Linked DNA regions of Homo sapiens. The protein of the gene in region 1 interacts with the protein of each later gene in a pairwise test. Each region holds a gene or a part of one and is shown on either strand. Other genes may lie near its edges.

What was found.
Region 2: the proteins of RRM2B (region 1) and RRM1 interact in a two-hybrid assay, tested with the Homo sapiens proteins (one study listed by BioGRID).

Annotation. Positions count from the first base shown.
Region 1 is NC_000008.11:102,228,600-102,236,640, reverse strand, and holds part of RRM2B (ribonucleoside-diphosphate reductase subunit M2 B), read left to right. Parts: intron 1-4,336; coding exon 4,337-4,492; intron 4,493-8,041.
Region 2 is NC_000011.10:4,118,407-4,126,447, forward strand, and holds part of RRM1 (ribonucleoside-diphosphate reductase large subunit), read left to right. Parts: coding exon 1-55; intron 56-1,438; coding exon 1,439-1,522; exon of another isoform or gene 1,523-1,564; intron 1,565-3,197; coding exon 3,198-3,359; intron 3,360-3,734; coding exon 3,735-3,814; intron 3,815-4,776; coding exon 4,777-4,978; intron 4,979-8,041. UniProt on the Homo sapiens protein: Provides the precursors necessary for DNA synthesis. Catalyzes the biosynthesis of deoxyribonucleotides from the corresponding ribonucleotides.

The DNA.
Region 1 (8,041 bases):
AGTTAATCCTTCATTAGACCAGTGCCTCAGTGTCACTGACCCTGTGTCCCCCAAAAAACTCCCAAAAGAGTCTCAATTCCTACCAAAAAGCCTGGCCAACACCTCAGGCTGGTGAAGTCTTGTTGAAGCTGCTTTTTTCATGCTAACTGCCACATCTTAATTCAAGTCCTCATTTCCATCTTTGAAATTGGTTCCTTAGTTGCTTGCAAAATCTAGTTTTTTATCAATTAATCCTATACGTGGTTTTCTGATTAGTCTTCCTAATGCCACCTCTATTCATGTTAATTCCCATTCAGAAACTCTCCATGACTATTTGTACCCCCAAATCTGTGGGGTACAGATTTTCAAACTGTACCCTGCTATGAACGCCAGCACCTGGGGTTGGGGGCAAATGGGGAGAATTGGAGTATGAGCCTTCTAGACCTCCGATGTTTGAAGATCTTTGGCCACAAAATTGATTCCTAACCTCTTAGTCTGATTTATCTTAAGAGTCTAGATCCTTTGCTTTAGCCAAATCACATCATTCCTACTTTTGCTTTTCCTTGTCCTGCATCCATTTCAGCCTGTTTTAATCTCAGCTGGCTTCTCTTCTTTCATCTGCCCTTTAAATATCAGCATTCTCTAAGACTGTATCCTCAGTTGTCTTGCTGCTCTATATGTTCTCTCTGGATAATCACATCCATTCCCTTGGCAACCACTAATGGGATCTCCATCACTCGTGTTCTGCAGTGTTATATTTTTAACTGCTTACTGGACATCTTGAAACTGAATTCATTATCTTTTCTATTCTTTTTTTTTTGAGACGGAGTCTCACTCTGTCACCAGGCTGGAGTACATACAGTGGCACAATCTCGGCTCACTGCAACCTCTGCCTCTTGGGTTCAAGTGATTCTCCTGCCTCAGCCTCCCGAGTAGTTGGGAGTACAGGCGTACGCCACCACGCCCGGCTAATTTTTGTATTTTTAGTAGAGACGGGGTTTCACCATGTTGGCCAGGATGGTCTCAATCTCTTGACCTTGTGATCCGCCCGCCTCGGCCTCCGAAAGTGCTGGGATTACAGGCGTGAGGCACCACGCCGGGCCTGAATTCATTATCTCTTCTAATGACCTAGTTGACTTTGTGAGGATATTGTGTTTGTAACTTTGTTGTTGTCGCCTGGCTTGGTGGGAGGAGTTAAATTAAACTTCCGTTAAACATCTAATGTGAGAAGCAAAATTTTTGTCTGATTTATTTATTTATTCTCCAGGTACTGAGCACCTTGTGTGTGCCTTTTAGATCTTGTTATCACCCAGTTACTGGAGCTGGAAACATCAAGGGCATCTTTAACTGTTCTTGCCCCTTGTCCCAAATTCAAATTTTTAGGAAGAATAATTCATTCTACTTCTGAATATCACTTAAATCAATTTTTGTGTGTGTTTCTAGTTCAGGCAAGAGATGGGTAGTACAATAATCTTTTCATTGTTCTTTCTGCCTCTAATTTCTCTTCTAATCTAGCAATGTTTCTAGAAAAGCGATCTTAAAAGATATATCTGATTATGTTATTTGCCTTATTAAAAACCTTCAGTGGCTCCCAATAGCATACATCTTAGAGTTATTAGATGCCAAAGTGTTTTATATCAAAGCAGACCACTTTAACCTCCAAAATTTTTTAAAAATCAGATTACTACTAACCAATTTTGCTCTTTTATTAACCCTGTAAAAATATAGATACCCATGAGCTTTGAAATTTCTATGTCTAGTAGGCTGCTCTCTCATGCACCCATATATTTCTTTTTGTTTTGTTTTGTTTTTTGAGATGGAGTCTTGCTCTGTCACCAGGCCTGAGTGCAGTGGCGTGATCTCAGCTCACTGCAATCTCTGCCTTCTGGGTTCAAGTGATTCTCCTGCCTCAGCCTCCCGAGTAGCTGGGACTACAGGTACGCGCCACCACACCCAGCTAATTTTTGTATTTTTAGTAGTGACAGGGTTTCACCATGTTGGCCAGGATGGTCTCGATCTCTTGACCTTATGATCCGCCCGCCTCGGCCTCCCAAAGTGCTGGGATTACAGGCGTGAGCCACCGCGCCCTGCCCATCATATCTTTTTTCACATTTTTTTTTTCTTCTAAAATATGGGTTCTTAGATTAGGTCCACAGAGGGTACTGTGGAGAGCCTAGAGTTTCAAGATGCATGAACTTTCTGAAATTGTATTCAAATGTATGTTTGTGCACGTTTCTAAGCATTATGAAATAATACGTCATCTCTAGCCCAGCTCAAAGGTTGATGTTGGTTAACCTCCTTCTCTTCACATTGCAAAATCCCTCATAATACACTCCTAATCCAGCTACTCCTCTTAATAGTCTACAGGTTATCAGGATAGAACAGGAGAATGTGTATACAAATGTGACTTTCATTCTAACTTAAAGGTACTAGTCTTCAGCAGATCAGTTATTTATCATCATTTAAAAACTTCATTCATCGTCAGGGCATTTGGTGCTGAAGAGTGACTGCTTGTGATGTCCTTCCCAACTTCCAGTAACAAAAGTATAGAAGTTCCCAACTTTCATACTTTGAGTATATCCCAAATTTCAGTAATAAAAATAACAAAGGCCAGGAGTTTGAGACCAGCCGGGGCAACATAGCATGACCCCCATCTCTACAAAAAATTTAAAAATTATCCAGGTGTGGTGACGTGTGCACATAGTCCTAGCTACTTGGGAGGCTGAGACAGGAGGATTGCTTGAGCACAGGAGTTTGAGACTGCAGTGATCTATGATCACACTACTCTGATCTATGCACTCTAGCCTGGGTGACGGAGCAAGACCCAGTCTTAAAAAAAAATTGCTCAAATATTTGTGGAATGAGTACCAACTAAGTGCCAGGTACTGTGCTAAGCACAAGGGATTCTACAAGGGTGAAAATGGATTTTACTTTCAAGAAGCACAGGAAATTAGAGACAATTAACAGGGAATTAAATTGCAGTGAGCTATGTACTTATATCTGGAACCTAACCCAGACCTTTGGGGTGATGTGAAGAGGGGAAAATGTGATTGATTTTAATGGTTATTGGGTTGTCTCACTGATGTATTGTGGTCCTATGTTAAATTAAAATTTTCTAAAGGTACCTAGAAATCTGAGTACAGGAAGAAGAGAAATTAGCAGCCCATTTACTTAGCTAACATGCTTGACACGATACTAAGCTCTGGGAACATCACAACAAATAAAAATTGGTTCCTCTTCTCCAGGGCTCAAGTGCTGTATCTGAGGAGGCCCATACCTTTAAACAAGTAGTTAAAATCAAGACCATCTGTACTGTGATGGCAGTAGGTATAAAGCACGCAAGCCCCCCTGTATTTGCATAGCCGTATGCTTGTATTTTGGGCTTTCTTCTTGCTAAGCCTTAGCCTCCTCTGCTATAACAGTTGCTTTGGCGAGGTGACAATGGGTGGACGCTGGAGTAAGGAACATAACGGGCCTGTCACAGTAGAGAGAGAGACAGTTTTGGATAGGAGTCTAGAAGTTGTATGTGTTCTAATCCTGGTTTATACACGTTTAGCTTATTTGTATGTCCTTTGTTTATACTCATTCTCACACATGTGCGACTCTTCTGATTCTCTTCTGATGTTCCCGCTATTTTAAAAATATATGCATGGCACCATTTGCTCTTAGAGTGCCATCGTGTTTTGAAGCAGTGTGAATACAGGTATGTGTTTCTCACTTTATTCACAAAGCTTTGAGACAGCCCACAGTGAGATCATATGCAGTAATGTTAGAATGTAAATAGCAGTAACAAATTGGAGTATCAGAAGGCTAAGATGAACAAAGGTTAAGTTGTAGGTAATGAGTTTTCAGATAAGTATTATATTATTTCAGTGAAGAGTAGAAAGAAAAAACATTAAAGTAGCTTATACCAGTAGCTTATTCATTCCAGCAATCTTATCAGAGAGGCTCTAAAGGGACATTTTGTTCACAAACTTAGAAATTTGCCCATCATGATGACATTTATGGGTCTAGCTTTGTACTTATCCTCAAACTAGCAATAATTACAATAATTTTTGAGTGCTTACTATATACCAGGCTTTGTTTAAAGCACTTTTAATCATCAGAATAAACCTATGAGGTAGGAATTATTTTACAGCTGAGGAGACTGAGGGTTAGAGAAGTTAAGCAGCTTTCTATGGTCACACACGCACTTCCTAACAGTATTAGTCAGCTACCAGGTAACAGTAAGGATTCAACCCAGGCAGACAGGCTCTCAAACCAATGCCGTCTCCCTGACTTCCTTAGATGTATGTTTAGGTATGAATAAAGAAGAAATGTCTATATAAAAGGCGTGTTTGTACTTTATTTTTCAAAGAGATCATCTTCAGACACCAACGAAAGTGAAATAAAGTCAAATGAAGAGCCACTCCTAAGAAAGAGTTCTCGCCGGTTTGTCATCTTTCCAATCCAGTACCCTGATATTTGGAAAATGTATAAACAGGCACAGGCTTCCTTCTGGACAGCAGAAGAGGTACGTGGCATTGCCTCCAAGAGCATTCACATCCTATAGTGCAGTGTTCCTTCTTGTTTTACAGGATATTGAATAACTTTAACTTATACATTGAAGAAGATCAGTTGTAGAAGATAAGTGTTGGAATTACTGAGACTAAATATGATGTTCTCAATGTTTTAGTTTAGATTACTATCTATAAACAAGTTTTCTGCTGCAACAATGGCATCTAATTCTGCCAGATTTTTATTTCCAATATATTAGAACATTTTTTTTCTTTTTCTTTTTTTTTTTTTTTTTTGAGACAGAGTCTCACTCTGTCACCCAGGCTAGAGTGCAGTGGCGCGATCTCAGCTCACTGCAAACTCCACCTCCCGGGTTCAAGCGATTCTCCTGCCTCAGCTTCCTGAGTAGTTGGGATTACAGGCGCCAGCCACCACGCCCAGCTAATTTTTGTATTTTTAGTAGAGATGGGGTTTCACCACATTGGCCAGGCTGGTCTCAAACTCCTGACCTTGTGATCCACCTGCCTCAGCCTCCCAAAGTGCTGGGATTACAGGCATGAGCCACCACGCCCAGCCAACATTTTCTATTTTTAAACAGACTTTTAGTTTGATATGGCCAAGTAAGACTTGTCTGACTAGTCTTACAAGGTCAGCAGAATAAGTAAAATTGCAGCTGTAGTCAAAAAATGAGTGAAAGCTGTAGCAACTCTGCTTTCAATTGAGAGATTTATCTGATTGTACAAAATGAGCCGCTGCATGAAGAGTTTGATCCTCTAGGCTGTGGACTCACTCCCGAGTCAGCCAGGTGGAACTCACAGTGCTGCTCCCAGTTTGGCCCTGCCCTCAGCTACATCAAACGTGACAGAGTTGCCACTAATAGATCAGCTGTAGAAAGCTTTTTGTTAATTCCACCTGGGAGATCAGTTGAACACAGCAAACTAGAAAATATTTGCTGGTTGGTAAGGACAGTGGTCATGAAAATGATTGCCCTGTAGTCTAACTGAACAAATAGTTATTGTCTTGATCTTTAAATATAATGGGTGATACCTATACAGCACTCTTGTTCTGTATATGTTTGTATATGTATCTCTATAGATAGATGTATCTATTTGGATAGATAGATTTGAATCTATTTTTCAAGACATTAATTCTATAAATGTTAAACACATGCTGTTAAGAATGCAGGCTATGGGGTCAGACTGCCTAGGTACAAATCCTGTGCCACTACTTACTAGCTATGGAACTGGGAAAGTTACATAACCTCTCTGTGTATCCTCATCAGTAAATTAGGCTAATTGTACTTGGCTATTTGTGTTGTTATGAGGATTTATGAGATATTTAAAATGGTAGTTGACACTTAGTAGGCACTAAATAAATGTAAACTATTATTTTATGCACAGAAGGGGGAAAATTTAACCTAGAAATCAGAAGGCACCAGTGTTTGAAGCTTCTATTACACTAATTTTACCCACTTACCCATCTTTGTTATATTGTAGTGTTATATTGTCAACATCTTTGTTATATTATAGTTGACATATAGAGCAAAAAACCAAACCACACAAAAACAAACACCCAATATTTTCATACGTGGTCATAATGCTTGACACACCTGACTGTCCCTAACTGTCTGTGGTTTTTAGAAAGGTTTTTTGTTAGATACGGTTCAGAGAACGAGTGGAATACGCAGGTGGCTTTTTCGTTCATTATGTTAAAAAGGTACTTAGGATTCTTAGGATTCTTGAAATTCATTTGGAAATTAACTTGCATCTTTTAGCAAAGGTAATATGTGACCTGTAACAAAGCAACACTAATTTTTAAAAACTGAAATCTACAGGTTGGTACGTGTTCTGTAGCTAATTATAGGACGATTCAAATACATATTTTGAAGATAAATCAAACACATTTTTAGTTCCACATATTTTTCATTTACAAATTATGTAAGTTACCATTTAGTCAGCTTAAATGGTTGAGCTTAATTCTTAAATATGGCTGATCAACAGAAACCCTGATCAAAAGACAAAAGTCTGGGGTTTGGGACTTTTTTCTTTAAAGCCACTCAGGCAGTTATGATAATTGTCTAGTTTGGAATCAGTATTTAAATGATGAAATTGAGAATTTGCTCAAATAAGAAAAAGCTAGGCAGGAAGGGAATATTTCCAATGTAGTGTAAATAAAATTTAGAAGACCTTTGAAACTGAGTGTTCAAAGAAATAATTTTAATATTTAAGAGGAAGCATCTTACAATATTAACATTTAATATCAAATATATAATATATAAGAGGTCGAGCATGGTGGCTCACACCTGTAATCCAAGCACTTTGGGAGGCTAAAGTGGGCAGATCACTTGAGGTCAGGAGTTTGAGACCAACCTGGACAACATGGTAAAACCCTGTCTCTAGTAAAAATACAAAAATTAGCCAGGCGTGGCAGCAGGTGCCTGTAATCCCAGCTACTCAGGAGGTTGAGGCAGGAGAATCGCTTGAGCCCAGGTAGCAGAGGCTGCAGTGAGCCCAGATCATGCCACTGTATTCCAGCCTGGGCAACAGAGTGAGACTGTCTCCGAAAAAAAACCTGAGGGGTTATAATATATATGAATGAAGAAGATGTCCTTCAGTTAAACCTGAGTTGAGCTTTTAATAGAACAGAACTTGATTTTTAGGTTGCATATTTTAAAAGATGAAGACAAATATTTCCTCCACCCTGCTCCGTTGTATCCCCAGTGCTTAGCACGGTGTCAGGTGTGCAGTAAGTGCTCAGCAAACACTTAAAGAATAAATTAGTGGGAAAAAGGATTTGGAAAATAGCATGTGATTAAAAGATTGGGACATTAGTCCTTTTTGGAAAGGTCAAAGAGATTGAGGCTTGAGGCTTTGTGGGTTTTTTTTTTTTTGTTGTTGTTGTTGTTTTGTTTTTGAGACAGAGTTGCACTCTGTTGCCAGGCTGGAGTGCAATGGCACGATCTTGGCTCACTGCAACCTCCTCCTCCTGGGTTCAAGCGATTCTCCTGCCTCAGCCTCCCAAGTAGCTGGGACTACAGGCATGCGCCACCATGCCTAGCTAATTTTGTATTTTTAGTAGAGACAGGGTTTCACTATGTTGACCAGGTTGGTCTCAATCTCTTGACCTCATGATCCACTCACCTTGGCCTCCCAAAGTGCTGGGATTACAGGCGTGAGCTACCGTGCCCAGCCGAGGGTTTGTTAGAGTAAATAAAAGAAAGGCAAAAGACAAAGACAATTACATATTTCAACTGTTCATGAAGTTAATTATGAAAAATATTTAAAAGATTTTTTCTGACAAAATTGAAGCAGGATAGTTTCTCCGATCCCTTCGTGGGTGGGAACTGGAATGCGCATGCTGGAGCTAGCTGGCTGCTTTGGCGCTGGCAGGGGCAAACTCCACTCACTTGAACCCATTGCGCTCAGCCCCTTGAGGGAGGGAGCATGCAGGTGAGCAGGTGCAGGAGCTTGGGTGAATTCTTTTGGGCACCGGCAGGAGCAAAACTCCATGCAGGCCTCATGGCAGCATCTGTGAGGAGTACCCACAACCCTTGAAGCCCCAGAAG
Region 2 (8,041 bases), on another chromosome or scaffold:
AGGAATTGGTGTTGCTGTGAGTTGTATTCGGGCTACTGGCAGCTACATTGCTGGGGTAGGTTTCTGCCATTTGACTTTTAAAGGGGGATTCAAGTCTAAAAGCAAACAGATTCATGGTTGAGAGGGCATATGCTATTTTTTGGGAGTCCTGGGTCTCTGTTAAATTACTAAATGGCTATGTGACTTGGAGTGAGTCATTTTACTTCTGGCTTCATTTTCATCTATGATATTAGATATTTAGATTTGACTAGATAATCTCTAGAATCCTTTTTAGCTCAGGTTTTAGAATTCTGGCTTATTTTAGCAGTAATAAGAGCAGTTATCATTGATTGATTGCTTACTGTATGTTAAGTTTGTTATAAATGTTTTACATGAGGTACTCATTTGACCCTTACTACAACGCTATGAGGTAACTATGATTATAGACTCATGCCAGGAATTTTATTCCTTAAAATAACCTTGTGAATAAAGGTACCATTGTCTAATTTTACAAGTGAGGAAATTGAGACTTAGAAAGTTGTTACTTTCTGAGATCAATCACTTAATATGTGGTAGAGCCAGGATTCAAGATTTATGCATTGACACTTTATGATGTAAACTTTAGCCCTTTGTTAGTTTACTGTTCAATGGGAGTCAAGATAATAGTTTTGGATTTAAATCCTAGCTCCACTACTTAACTAGTAATGTGGCCTAGAGTTAGTTATTTTGTGTCTGAGTTTGTTTCCTTTTCTGTAAGGTGAAGAAAATATCTAACTCTGTAGAATAAAGTTCCAGAAGGAAATTATTCCATTATGTTGTGTTTTGGAGGTGCTGTGATATATACAGCACTTTACACAGTGGTAGAGTGAGCTATTGCTCACTTATCTTTCTAGACTGTTTAAAGGCTTGTGTTGGGATCAGAAGGGTTAAAGAATTTGATGAAGTATCTTCTAGTCGTAGGAGTCTCTATTTTCTTAACATCATTCTAGAGTCCACTTATTGCTGAGAATCTCCTTTTACCTTATTTATTGCCCTGATATAGCTATCGCATATAATTCTTATTGTAAATTGCCTTGATTTCTTTTGGGAAAAAGGCATTGTAGTAGTGTTTATATTCTTTTTTACTCTACCCAAAGTGTATCTTTATATAACGACCTTTAGAAGATGTAGAGTTTAAATTTAGCTACCTTGATTTTGGATCCCTTTGGCCTGTAATTGTTACATCTCATTATAAATTAGAAATGCCATGAGGTAACTTAGTACATAATTGTAATTTATTCAACATTTTGTTGATTTTATTTGGGCATTTTTCCAAAGCAGAAGTAGAGATGGAGAGCAGGTAAAACTTCATAGATTGCTACCTAGAAATTAGGCATCTTTTTTGATAAAAGAATGGGGCCATTTTTTTCTTTTCTTTGCTGAGTGCCCTCTGTCATTTCTATCATGGTCTCTCTTTTAGACTAATGGCAATTCCAATGGCCTTGTACCGATGCTGAGAGTATATAACAACACAGCTCGATATGTGGATCAAGGTGGGAACAAGGTATGCTCCATGAATTGAAAGTACTGGAAATCAGAACTAAAGGTGATTTAGTCATATACACTTAAGATGGTTCATTTATGTGTAGTTTCTAATTACCTTTTTTTTACTTGTAAAATCAATTTGAGGAGGTATAATTATTTTAATATGCATATACTTTAAATGTACAGTTTGATGGGTTTTGACAAATGTATACACTTGTGTAATCACCACATTGATAAAGAGGTAGAACATTTCCATTACCCCAAAATCTTTTCTCCCTCATATACCTTTACATTCAGTCACCCCTGTCACCCCTACCCACACATACTTTATCCCTGGCTCTAGACAGCCACTGATCTATTCAGCTTTCTTACATGATAGTTCGTTTGCAAAGAATTTCTCAAGTTGTAATTCATATAAATTTGTTACTTGAAATGGGGTTGTAACATGTGCTCTAGGTTTTTCTTTCGTTTTTTTTTTTATCTCTCTCTTATCACCCAGGCTGGAGTGCAATGGTGCGATCTTGGCTCACCGTAGCCTTGACCTCCTGGACTTAAGTGATTCTTCTGCCTCAGCCCTCCCATGTAGCTCAGACTATAGGCCTGTGCCACCACACCCAGCTAATTTTTATATTTTTTGTAGAGGCGGGGGTCTCACTTTCTTGCCTAGGCTGATCTCAAACTCCTAGGCTCAAGCAATCTACCTGCCTTGGCCTCCCAAAGTGTTGGGATTATGGGTGTTAGCCACTGCACCTCGCCTAGGTTGTTCTTAAAACAAAAACAAAAACTACCTGGAATAACAAAACTCTCCCTAATTGGCTGGATGCAGTGGCTCCTGCCAGTAATCCCAGCACTTTGGGAGGCTGAGGTGGGCTGATCGTGTAAGCTCACAAGTTCAAGACCACGAGTTCAAGCTCACGAGTTCAACATGACGCAACCCCATCTCCACAAAAAATACAAAAATTAACCGGGTGTGGTGGCGAACGCCTGTAGTTTCAGCTTCTCTGGAGGCTGAGGTGGGAGGATGGCTTGAGCCCGGTAGGCAGGAGGTTGCAGTGAGCCGAGATTATACCACTGCACTCCAGCCTGGGCGGTAGAGCTAGAACTTGTCTCAAACAAAACAGAACAAACAAACAAAAACTCTCCCTAATTGATAGAAGAAACAGTAAAGTTGAGAGAATTGGGTTGTTTACCTTATTTTATCAACAGGATGGTTTACAACTAGAGTCTGCCTTTTGTGACTGTAGGCACACTAATCGCTTGTTGGTTTATGAATTTCTCTCTGATGGACTTTGGGGACCTTGATAAGACAGATCAACTTTTTGACCTACAATAAGAGCATGGCTTATACTGTCAAAGCAACTTCCTTTGGGCTTTATGTACATGTCATGTGGTGTAAAGAGAGCTGGGCTGTTGCTGAAGAGGAGGCTCCATCTGTAGTTCATCATGTCACTTTAGAAAAGTTAATCTTGTTTCACATTTTGTTTATATCATTCGTTCGTTTTTACTCATAGAATTGTAAAATATTACTTTTACAATTATATATGGAAAACTTACACTTTTATAATACTTTTATTTATGTTATTTAATTCATTGTAGTGAAAATCAAAGGAGATACTATAAAAGTGCTTTGGGAGACATGATGTTTCTTTGTTTCATTTTTATTCTGAAGAGAATTATGATTTATTTACCACTAGCGTCCTGGGGCATTTGCTATTTACCTGGAGCCTTGGCATTTAGACATCTTTGAATTCCTTGATTTAAAGAAGAACACAGGAAAGGAAGAGCAGCGTGCCAGAGATCTTTTCTTTGCTCTTTGGATTCCGGATCTCTTCATGAAACGAGTGGAGACTAATCAGGTGAGAGATAGGTACTTGTTGGTAATAGCAACTTGATTCACATGAGCTTTCTCTTTTTTAGTCATCTTAAGTCATGCTTAGGAAGAGCCCATATGTGTGTGATGCCACAGAAGGCATTCTGAACAAGTTAAGAGATGCCGTGCTTGTCTTCTTATATTTCTATTCTCTAAAGTAGATGCTTTGTGACCTAAATGCTTAAAAGGTCATGTATAAACAGGCAGACCTAGATGTTTGGGCCTGAACCTGAAAATGATTATTTCTACAGCAAATTTCCAAGAGAGCTTGTAAAAGTCACCTTATGCTTGCAGTGTTTCTAATGGATTATGGTTGGCTATTTGAAGTTTCTTATGAGTGATTTTGTCCTTTCCTTTTTAGGACTGGTCTTTGATGTGTCCAAATGAGTGTCCTGGTCTGGATGAGGTTTGGGGAGAGGAATTTGAGAAACTATATGCAAGGTATGGGAAAAATATGAAAGAAAACAATAATGTTTTAATCATGGTTTCTCTTATTTCAGGGGTCCAAATATCAAAAGTACTTGTCAAGAATCTTTTGAAGCATCTAAGAGAAAAAGTGACTAATAATTTTGGTCAGATTTGCTTCCTGACTCTTCACCAAAATTGAGTTGTGTCTTCTTCTTTCTTAAAACTTTGGAATGTATAAATAGGTTCTTGGGATTTTTAATTGATCCTTTTAAAATTTAAGATGACTAGTAGGGTTATTATTTTGCTCTGTCATATAGTACTTTTGATAAGCTATGCTTTATGTTGCATAAAGGAATCATGAGTGACTAGGACACATATGTCAGTAGTTTATTAAAATTAAATAGGTCAGGTGCAGTGGCTCACATCTGTAGTCTCAGCACTTTGGGAAGATGAGGCAGGTGGATCATTTGAGGTCAGGAGTTCAAGACCAGCCTGGCCAACATGGTGAAACCCTGTCTCTAGTAAAAATACAAAAATTAGCTGGGCGTGGTGGTGCACACCTGTAGTCCCAGCTACTTGGGAGGCTGAGGTAGGAGAATTGCTTGAACCTGGGAGGTGGAGGTTGCAGTGAGCTGAGATTGTGCCACTGCACTCCAGCCTGGGTGATAGAACGAAACTCCGTCTCAAAAAAAAAAAAAGGAAAAAAATTTAGCACAGTCTTAAGAGATTTGGCTTCCTTAGTTTTTACTCCTTTTTATTATGAAAGATATTATTGGTTTAGTGGGATTGCGATCATCTGAAGGCACCTAAAACTGCCTCATTTTCCCCTATGGCTTTAGCTAGAGTAAAATAAATATCATATTCCTTTTTTTCTTTAGCAAAACTTAGAGAAAATTTAAGAGTTTTCATAACTTTATATTTTAATGTCTTCAAGTTGTCTACAATAAAGTTTTTTTAGGGAATATATATTAAATAATATTATCTGTGCCTTTCAGTTATGAGAAACAAGGTCGTGTCCGCAAAGTTGTAAAAGCTCAGCAGCTTTGGTATGCCATCATTGAGTCTCAGACGGAAACAGGCACCCCGTATATGCTCTACAAAGATTCCTGTAATCGAAAGAGCAACCAGCAGAACCTGGGAACCATCAAATGCAGCAACCTGTGCACAGAAATAGTGGAGTACACCAGCAAAGATGAGGTAGGTAGAAAAAATTCTTCCTAGAGTACTAAGAAGAGAACCTTAGGCAGTTATTATTTGTGAATTCCTCACTTGATTTCACTTGAGATAAGTGAAGGGAGTTTGCATAGTTGTAAGCAGAAGAACACTGTTAAAGGCAGAGAGCAAAGGAAGGAAAGGGTATGATCTGTGCCTATAAATGTTTTTTAGTCTAAGCCGTGTGGGAAAGACACAGTTTTTTCTTATACACACATCACTGTAATAACATTTACTCAAGAAAAATAGAAATATACAGTTATGTTAGTTTAGGACACACACAAAAATGTGTTAGGATGTACATTCAATTTAAACTATGTAAGCCTTGAGCCTGGAAAGTGGAGGCTGCAGTGGGCTGAGATTGTGCCACTGTACTCCATCCTGGGCGACAAAGTGAGACCCTGTCTCAAAACAAACAAACAAAAAACCAAAAACAACAACAACAAAAGTATGTAAGCTTATAAAGAGAGTCCTTTCAGTGAATGGTGAGATCAAATTCTAATCTCAAGTCTGTAAAGAGACTTCACAGAAGAATCAAGGCTAGAAATGGGACATGGATTTGGTGTTTTAAAAAAAAGTTTGAGAGAGGAGCTTTCCATTTGGAAAGAGTGGTCTGTATGATACACCAGAGACAGGGCTGGGTTTTATGCAGTGTGGCAAGTAAGTCTGTTTTGATGGTGCAAGTAGATTAATTATTGGAATATGGAGAGATGGCTATGGCTGGGGGAAGGGAGATAGAAGGTAGAAGCTGACACGTCACGGATAGGTAGCCCTTGTAGGTTTCTGAGAGGAAAATAGCATCAAAATGTTAAGATGAAAAGGAAGGTTCTTGCTTCTGGTTACAGAGTGTCTTGCTGTGAGAAGGGATTAGAGGTTAGCCTAGGGAGATTGTTGTACTAGTTGGATGACAGGCTGCTTTGATCTTGGATGTAAACTATGGAAACGAGGAAGGAGTAGATCCTCAATTCTAGGACCTTAAAAAAAAAGACAAATGAAAAGTCAGGAAGTAAATGGAAAGTGAGTTAAATATACTGCTAAGGTTACAGTTTAATTCAAAATTTATTGTGCAGTAGCTATATGTAAAACACAATGTTAAGTGCTCTGAGAATATAAATAAATATGCTGCCCTCTGGAAACTTCTAATTTAGTTGGAAGACATCGACATATATTGAGGTAACTATTATGCAAGACAGATTATATTATAGAGGCTAGAGTGACATTTTTAAAATAAAAATCAGATAATGTCATTTGTCTGCACAAAACTACTCTTTGGCTTGCTAACCCATGCAGAATTCCTTTTTTTTCGGGGGGCGTCAAGATTTCACTCTGTTGCCCAAGCTGGGCTGTGGCTCACTGCAACCTCAACAGAGTTCTTTCTTTTTGCAAATTGAGCTATAATTCACTCTTTTTAAAATGTACAATTCAGTGTTTTTTTTCTTTTCTTTTCTTTTCTTTTTTTTAGTATATCTGCAAGTCTGTGCAACCATTACCACTATCTAATTGTAGTATTTATTTATTTTATTTTTTTTTTTTTGAGACAGAGTCTTGCTCTGTCACCAGGCTGGAGTGTAGTGGCTCGATCTCGGCTCACTGCAACCTCCGCCTCCTGGATTCAAGCGATTCTCCTGCCTCAGCCTCCCGAGTAGCTGGGACTACAGGCGCGTGCCACCACACCCAGCTAATTTTTGTATTTTTAGTAGGGACGAGGTTTCACTATGTTGGCCAGGATGGTCTCAATCTCTTGACCTCGTGATCCGCCCACCTCAGCCTCCCAAAGTGTTGGGATTACAGGCGTGAGCCACCGTGACCGGCCTGTAGTACATTTTTATCACTGTAGATAATGAAACCCTTTATCCATTAGCAGTCACTCCCTGTTCCCTTCTTCCCTCAGCCCTTGACAACCACTAATATATTTTCTGTCTCTAGATTTGTGGACATTGTGGACATTCCATAGGAATGGAGTCATATAATATGTGGCCTTTTGTGTCAGGCTTCTTTCACTTAACATGTTCTTTTATTCATGTTGTAGCATGTATCAGTACTTCATTCCTTTCCATCCAGAGTTCTTACAGTGCCCTACAAGGTCCTACACAACTGGATAACCCACCTCATCTGCGGTTACTTTCCCCTTTGTTCACTTTGCTCCAACCCTATTAATTTTCTTGCTTTTTCTCAAACATGTCAACCATGCTCCTACCTCAGGATTTTTGCTCCTTCTTCCCTCTTGAATGTTAAAATGCACCCCCTCTTCCCATAGCCACATGATTTGCTTTCTAACCTGTTCAGTTCTTTGTTCATATGTAACATTTTCAATGAGGTCCTTCTTGACAATTCTGTTTAAAAATTATACCCCCTTCATCTTTATCCCCAGTACTCTCTGTCTTCTTTTCCTGCCTATTTTTCTTCCTGGCATTTATTAGACTTCTGTGATTCAAGCTATATTTAAAAAAATGGGTATTTGGCAACATGTGTAGAATGGAGTAGATGTGAAGGGCATCAAGAGTTCAACTGGGAAACTTTCAGTAGTCCATGTGAGAGAAGTTAAGACTTTGGCTTGGGATAGTCATAATCAAAATGGAAAAGAAAGTGTATTCATTCAACATTATCAAGACTTACTGTGTGCCAGATGTGTTGCTAGTGCTAAACATATAAATATAAATAAGATGATCCTTGTGTGAAGAAGCTCACTGCCTCGTGTAGTGGAGAAATCACTGGAAGAGCTTTTTCAGAAATCACAAATTGAGATCCATTGTTGCTAAGGGCTTGTCAGAATATCAGTGAAGGTGAGGTGGACGTGTGTGTTTTGAAGAACTCTGCAGTGATGGAAATGTTCTGTATCTGATGGCTATTGAGCACTTGAAATATGACTAGTGCAACTGAGAAACTCAAATTTTATTTCATTTTAAATAGATATATGTAGCCAGTGGCTACCATATTGCAGGGCACTCATCTACTGAATAATGAGATAGGTATATGTAAAAAGCTAATTATAACATAGTGTGATATATGTCTGGTAATAGAGCTGTGTACTGTGGAACATAGGGTTCT